Homo sapiens: one gene and its partner. The protein of the gene in region 1 purifies or fractionates together with the protein of each later gene. This does not show direct contact. Each region holds a gene or a part of one and is shown in the gene's direction. Other genes may lie near its edges.

Evidence for each region. The genes of interacting proteins can lie anywhere in the genome.
Region 2: the proteins of FTO (region 1) and TKFC fractionate together in Homo sapiens (co-fractionation; one large-scale study listed by BioGRID). This does not show direct contact.

The regions. Positions count from the first base shown.
Region 1 is NC_000016.10:54,116,656-54,120,155, forward strand, and holds part of FTO (alpha-ketoglutarate-dependent dioxygenase FTO), read left to right. Parts: 3' UTR 1-3,500.
Region 2 is NC_000011.10:61,339,728-61,343,227, forward strand, and holds part of TKFC (triokinase/FMN cyclase), read left to right. Parts: intron 1-1,708; coding exon 1,709-1,787; intron 1,788-2,095; coding exon 2,096-2,185; intron 2,186-2,733; coding exon 2,734-2,768; intron 2,769-2,846; coding exon 2,847-2,931; intron 2,932-3,027; coding exon 3,028-3,117; intron 3,118-3,500.

The DNA.
Region 1 (3,500 bases):
GCAAGACAGCAAGGGCACCCCTGGGCCACTGCTGTGTTTGGGAGGCAGGTTTTGGGGGTTGTCAGAAGGCATTCACCTGGTTCTCTCGCTCACCTGAGACACCCGATAGATTCCTGGAAACTCCAGGAAAGTATCTGAAGATCTGGTTCTCCATTCTCTCTTATTAACAAGGAGAACCACAAGTGCCCCCCAGATCCCGGCTAGAAGGACCAGACAGCTTTCCACCCCGGTTCCCAGGCAGCCCTGCTCCCATAGTCCTGTGTCCCATCGGCCCCATGCTCCCAGGACAGTCCTAATTCCCACCTCTCAGAACCTTGTCAGCCAAGTTCTTCCTGCTCTCTGGCCCAAATCCTCCTCCTACATTGGAAACTGAGCCTCTCTGCATCCTCTGCTCTTTCTATCCCGCTGTCATTCATCAGATTTTCCAAATCTTTGGATTCCTGAGTGGCAGAAGAGGTTTTCTGAGTTTAAGTTCTGATTCTGTGTGTGATTCTCACTCTACCACCTCTTCAAACCTTTGTTGTCTTATCTACAAAATAGAATAGTAGTAATCCATCACCTAAGGTTGTTGTGAAGGTTCAATAAGTTAATGCGTATTTAAAATGCCTCCCACAGTACCTGACATATACTGGGCTTCAGTGAGGTACTAGCTATTATTATTAACCAAGTTTCCTGTGGTAACAGTTGTAGCTTTGTGACTGGGCCAAATCACTTAACCCCTCTGCGCTCCAGTCTTTGTTTCTATAATGGGGATGATGATAATGCCTAGCTCATTGGATTGTTCTGTCCCCTACGATCAGCCATGTTAAGTGATTCATATCATGTCTGGTACTTAAAAATCACGCCACGCATGTACATTATTATGATGAAAAATATGATCCGTGATATCCTGACCAAAATATTAAAGGGACTAAAGATAGCTGTGGCTTGTTCAAGAAGAATATTGTGTCACTATCCCATATATTATCCCATTTGCTCTTCACAGCTTCCATTTTTCGCTAGGCGGATGGCATGGAACTTTTTATAAATGAGATATTATGAAAAATGATGTTTTAGGACTCTCATTTCTACAGTGGGAGTAGGTCACCCATTGCAATTTTGGATTTGCTTAAAAAAATTCTTGCCATCACCTTCTAATGGATGATCTGTGTACAACAATTGTTTATTGACTCTGAATGTCTAAGTACCAGGGTCAGTCTATTTCAAGGGGAGGGAAGCATTAATTAACCTCCAGCATTAGATTCAGTGATTCTTTTCCAATGATGCAGTTCATGACTTTGCTCGCATTTACTTTTCATCAATCCTGAAAGAATTGAGGTAAAATAGTTCCTCTGCACATGTGTGTCAAGCTAAATGGATAACAGCAGATACAGATCTGTTTGCCTGTCTGCACTTGCCTTTAGACAAAATTCATCAATTTTACAAAAGCCACTGACTAAACATGGCACCAATACAAATGAAGCACTTCTAGCAGGCGGAGATTCCCTTTGTTTCTGATCTGGTAAATGCGGTAGTTTCCTGCTGAGAGATGGGAAGTGCTGGCCTAGGACAGCAAGGTGCCCTACAGGTGGGGCCAAAAGGGTCAAGACCGTTCTACAGGAAGTTTAGGAGAAGTTCAATGGTTCCAGATCCTGTGTGCTTCGGGTAATTCTGACCCTCTTCATTAGTGATAATGGCATGAAGCTCTTTCACACAGTCTTTTTTTTTTTTCTTTTTTTTTTTCAGACAGGGTCTCACCCTGTCACGTAGGCTGGAGTGCAGTGGTGAGATCACGGCTCACTGCAGCCTCGACTTCATGGGCTCAAGCGATTCTCCTGCCTCAGCCTCCTAAGTAGTCGGGATCATAGGCACTTGCCACCACATCCGGCTAATTTTTTTGTAGAGACAGGATTTCACCACATTACACAGGCTGGTTTCAAACTCCGAGGCTCAAGTGATCTGCCTGCATCGGCCTCCCAAAGCGCTGAGATTACAAGCGTGAGCCACTACGCCTTGCCCTCCACACAGCCTTGCTTGGTGTTAAAGATTAAACAAAGACCACAGGTGATCACTGTCTTCGTGGTGCCAGTTTCAAGGGCACCCTTCTTCCCTTCCCAGCCTCCGAGAGAAGGAGAGAGGGTCCACAAGCCAGATCCATCCCCATCCACACAGGTAAAACCACGACTGTGCAGCTAGCAGGTGGAGATAACATTTGGAAAAAGGCTTTGTAAATGCTAAAGTCCTACTCAAGTCCAAGGGAGAGAAATTATTATTATTCGTTTTGTGAAACCAATTTAGTTTGGCTGGGTAATGGAAGAATTTCTACATACATTCATTACTTCTGATCAGGCAAGACCAGTCTGACACAGGAACAGTCTATGGCTCACTCTTAAAGCCACAGCAGGCTGCCAGGGCTTGGAGAAATAGAAACCTCTCTTGCACAAGAATAGTCTCAATGAATCATGTTAAGGCCTCTTTAGGTTTTTCAGACTCCATGCACCCTGTGGAAACTGCCTTTCTTGAGTAGAGGTACGTTCAGCACTTCATAAAATAATCTTGGAGCCTCCAGACACACGGATGGAGGAGCATGATTTCATTTGTTTCTTTGCAAAACTGCTGTCCCCAACTGAAAAACCTGATTATCCTTTCAAATAGGGAATTCGGCTTTCCACGTTGGAACCAGAACAGTTAACCTTCAAACCCCCAAGGCTTGCAAGAGATGAATCAGTTTCTCAGACAGCCAAAGCCGTGGCTTATAACTCATCCAACCCAGAAAACTGGACCGCTGGTCACCTTCCTTCCCCCTGCCCCCAACTCTGCAGACAGAGGTTTCCCGTTGATTATGCCTTGATTAGAGTCAGGAGAGAAGCAAACCAGGTATATAGGATTCCATTATCCTTCCCTCCTCTGCTCCCAACCAGGGTCACGCTGAGAGGGATCTCGGTGAACATGTGAACAATCAAGCCATGTTTACCATGGACGTTTAGTTTTCTTTTCTCAAAATCAAAACAGAGTTTAGTAGGCAGCGTATTTCATACATGCCCCTTGATCAATGGAATGATCTGTCAGAAGCCATTAAAGCCCCCATTAGCTTGAATGCATTCAAAGCTAAACTATTGGATCATTTAAGGGCTGCAGTGATTGTTTTTAATATACCGTACATTGATTTCTCCCTGTGAGCAGCAACATAAGTTTGAAACTAACTGTGTATGACTAAGGCTCCATTTGCTGTCTCCAACCCTCTGTGAGAAGCATGGTTTCACTTCGACCAGAAATGTCTGTGTATAGTTTTCAAAGAGATGCAGACCCTGTTCGATTTCCCAAGATTTAGACTGGGTCGGGTTGTTATTTCTTTTTTCCCTGAGCTTTCTCCCATTTCTTTGTGCCCATTAAGTGAGCTGTGCGTGCAGAATGGGAGAGGCATCCCTGCCAAGGACTTCAAGTGAAAGGCGGTGGGAGAAATTGTTCTGAAAGCATGAAGCCCAGCTGAGGCCAAAATCAAAGTGAATTTGACAGCCTTG
Region 2 (3,500 bases), on another chromosome or scaffold:
GCCTTGGTTCAGGGGTCATCTACTCATGCCTGATGGCTGCAGCCACCTCCTCACTGGGCTCCCCTGCCTGCTTCCTGCCTTCTGGCCTTGCTCATCCATTCTCCACACTACTGCCAGAGGTGTCTTTTTAAAATGTGTATCTGACTAGGTTATTCATCCACTGAAAGCCTTCTTGGGTGCCTACAATCAATACAAGCCCTCACCATAGCTCCCTGACTCCCCACCTTCATCTCCCATCATCCCTGCCTTCCTCTTTTTTTTATTTTCTTTTATTTATTTTTTATTTATTTATTTATTTTTTGAGGCAGAGTCTCACTCTGTTGCCCAGGCTGGAATGCAGTGGCGCGATCTTGGCTCACTGCAGTCTCCGCTGCCCAGGTTTAAGTGATTCTCCTTCCTCAGCCTCCCGAGTAGCTGGGATTACAAGGCGCCTGCCACCACGCCCGGCTAATTTTTGTATTTTTAGTAGAGATGTGGTTTCACCATGTTGGCCAGGCTGGCCTCGAACTCCTGACCTCAAGTGATCTGCCCGCCTCGGCCTCCCAAAGTGCTGGGATGACGAGCGTGAGCCACCGCGCCCAGCCATCCCTGCCTTCCTCTTTTTTTTTTTTTTTTTTTTTTTTTTTTTTTTTTTTTTTGAGACGGAGTCTCGCTCTGTCGCCCAGGCCGGACTGCGGACTGCAGTGGCGCAATCTCGGCTCACTGCAAGCTCCGCTTCCCGGGTTCACGCCATTCTCCTGCCTCAGCCTCCCGAGTAGCTGGGACTACAGGCGCCCGCCACCGCGCCCGGCTAATTTTTTGTATTTTTAGTAGAGACGGGGTTTCACCTTGTTAGCCAGGATGGTCTCGATCTCCTGACCTCATGATCCACCCGCCTCGGCCTCCCAAAGTGCTGGGATTACAGGCGTGAGCCACCGCGCCCGGCCCCTGCCTTCCTCTTATGGTCTCTTCACGCCAGCTCCTGTACCTGCCAGGCTATGGATCATCTCTGGCTTTGCTTATGCAGTATCTGTGGCCTGGAAAATTCTTTCCTTGTCCAGCCTCCTTTTGGCCTGGCTAACTCCTACCATTCTACAGAGGCCCAGCTCTGATGTCTCCCCACCTGGAAGGCTCTCCCTGATCTCCATCTCCCCACTACCCTGAGCTGGTTGGCAGCCAGTCCTAGTGTGGACTCCATCACTGTAATTACCACCTCACATAAATTTTCAATTTATGGGTATCTGCTTCCCTAGCCTCTCCCCAGGCTGTGAGTTCTTGAAGGTGGAGACTGTGACTTAGTCGCCTTTTTTCCTTTTCAGCATATACTAGATGCTTGGTAAAAATTGGGTGGATGGATGGATGGATAGATGGGTAAAGTGACCCAAAATAGCAAGGCTATGGGAGAGAGAACTCTGGAACTCTAGAGTTGGGAAACTGGCCACCCACTGGCTGTGTGACATTGGACAAGTCACCGCCCCTCTCTGGGTCCATTTCCCCATTTGTAAAGTCTCTTCTGACTCCAACAGACTGGAATTCTTGAAGATTCCTGGCAGGTACACTGTGAATGAGGGGAGTTTGCTCTTCTGCCCTAAATGTGATGGGCCAGGTTGAGTGTGAAAATCCTGAGGTTCCCCCTTCCCAACAAGAAATTCATCCCCTGCCTGTCTTCTACCCCACATGGTACAGTGATACCCTCCCCCCTGGGGCTTTTACCTCTTTGTGGCTGCAGGTGGCAGGTGCTCTGGCTGAGGCTGGTGTGGGGCTGGAGGAGATCGCAAAGCAGGTGAACGTGGTCGCCAAGGCCATGGGTGAGTGCTGGCCTGGGAGCTGGGGAAGAGAGTGGGGAAGGTTGGACAGCCCTGGGGCGAGGAGCAGGTTCCTGTTGGCTGCCTAGCGGTGCTCCCCAGGTTATTCCCCAGGGGTCTAGGGAGTGTATCCCTGGGGGAGCTCCTGGGGACTGGTGGCCTTGGGTACCATGGCTGAGGTGGAGAGTCTGGCAGCCTTTCTCAGAGAAGAGGGTACCTGTGGGCAGGGCCTCTGAGATGCTGCTGCCACCCTTCCTGATGCCCAGTGCTAAGAGTGGAACAGTCATCCCTTCATGCCTTGTTTCTCATAGGTACCCTGGGGGTGAGCTTATCCTCCTGCAGCGTCCCTGGTTCCAAACCCACCTTCGAGCTCTCAGCCGACGAGGTGGAGCTGGGCCTGGGTAAGCTTGTGGCCATCCATCCCAGCCCTGCCTGCTCCTTGGCCCTGGACTTTGCCCACCTTGCATACCCTTAGAGCCATCAACCTGGTCCTCTCCCCAGGTGGTCTTAGTATTTTTACCTGGTCATTTGAGGCCCAGCCTGGGCCAACCTGCCTGATTTCTACCTGCTTTGCTGTCTATACCCACAGCTTTGGCCATGTGGAGCTCTGTGCACTGCCCACCTCCTAGCCTTTGCCTGCCATTCCCAGGTCCTCCTGTCCCTGCCAGAATACACCCTTCTTTCAACGGCTGTTCAAAGATCACCTGGCTGCAAAGCTTTCTTTCCTCGCCTGTGCTTCCTCCTTAACTATCTCTAGTTAAAGCTATCTCCACCACCAGGCCACAAGCTCCCAGAGAACAGAGATCGTGTTTTTCATTATTCTGTCCATTTCCATCCCCCACTCCCGCCCACTTACTGTGTGAGTCCAGCACTGTGTGAGTCCTTGATAAAAACGATGAGCAAATCCCCAGGCCTTGAGTGGGTCAGCAGTGACCACATCTATCCGCAGGGATCCACGGGGAAGCTGGTGTGCGCCGGATAAAGGTAGGTGGTCCCTCTGGCACAGGCCGCCCTAAGGCCAAGGCCCCCCAGATGCAGCTCATTCCTGGCTCCCTCTGACAGATGGCAACCGCCGATGAGATTGTGAAACTCATGCTCGACCACATGACAAACACCACCAACGCGTCCCATGTGCCTGTGCAGCCCGGTGGGTAGCCTCTCGCCCGCGTCTCCCAACCCCTCCTAAACCTCTGGGGAGGAGACGCCCAGAGGGTCTCACCTGGGGTGTCATGTCTACCCGCAGGCTCCTCAGTTGTGATGATGGTCAACAACCTGGGTGGCCTGTCATTCCTGGAACTGGGCATCATAGCCGACGCTACCGTCCGCTCCCTGGGTGAGCCATGCACTGGGAAGGGGATCCTACAGCCCTTTGGAAAGGGCTGAGGGAGGGTCTTGTGATGGCAGAGAACACGGACTGTGCGTCAGATAAGCCTGAGTTAAATCGTCTCTCTGCCACCTAATTGCCGGATACCTTGAGCCTCTGTTTGTTTTCTTGTCTGCAAATTGGGGGTAATAATAATGGTACCTGCTTTATACCGTTGTTTTGAGGATTAAGTGAGATTAAACATATGTAAGACACTCAACACAGCGCCCAGCACCTGGCACGAACTGAGTAAATGAGACCTGTAATTACTCATCTTCCCCGACGTAGGGGACACCTCCAGGGAACGTGGTCATTTGTGGGGTTATTGAGGGATGCCTGCCAGGAGGAAATCA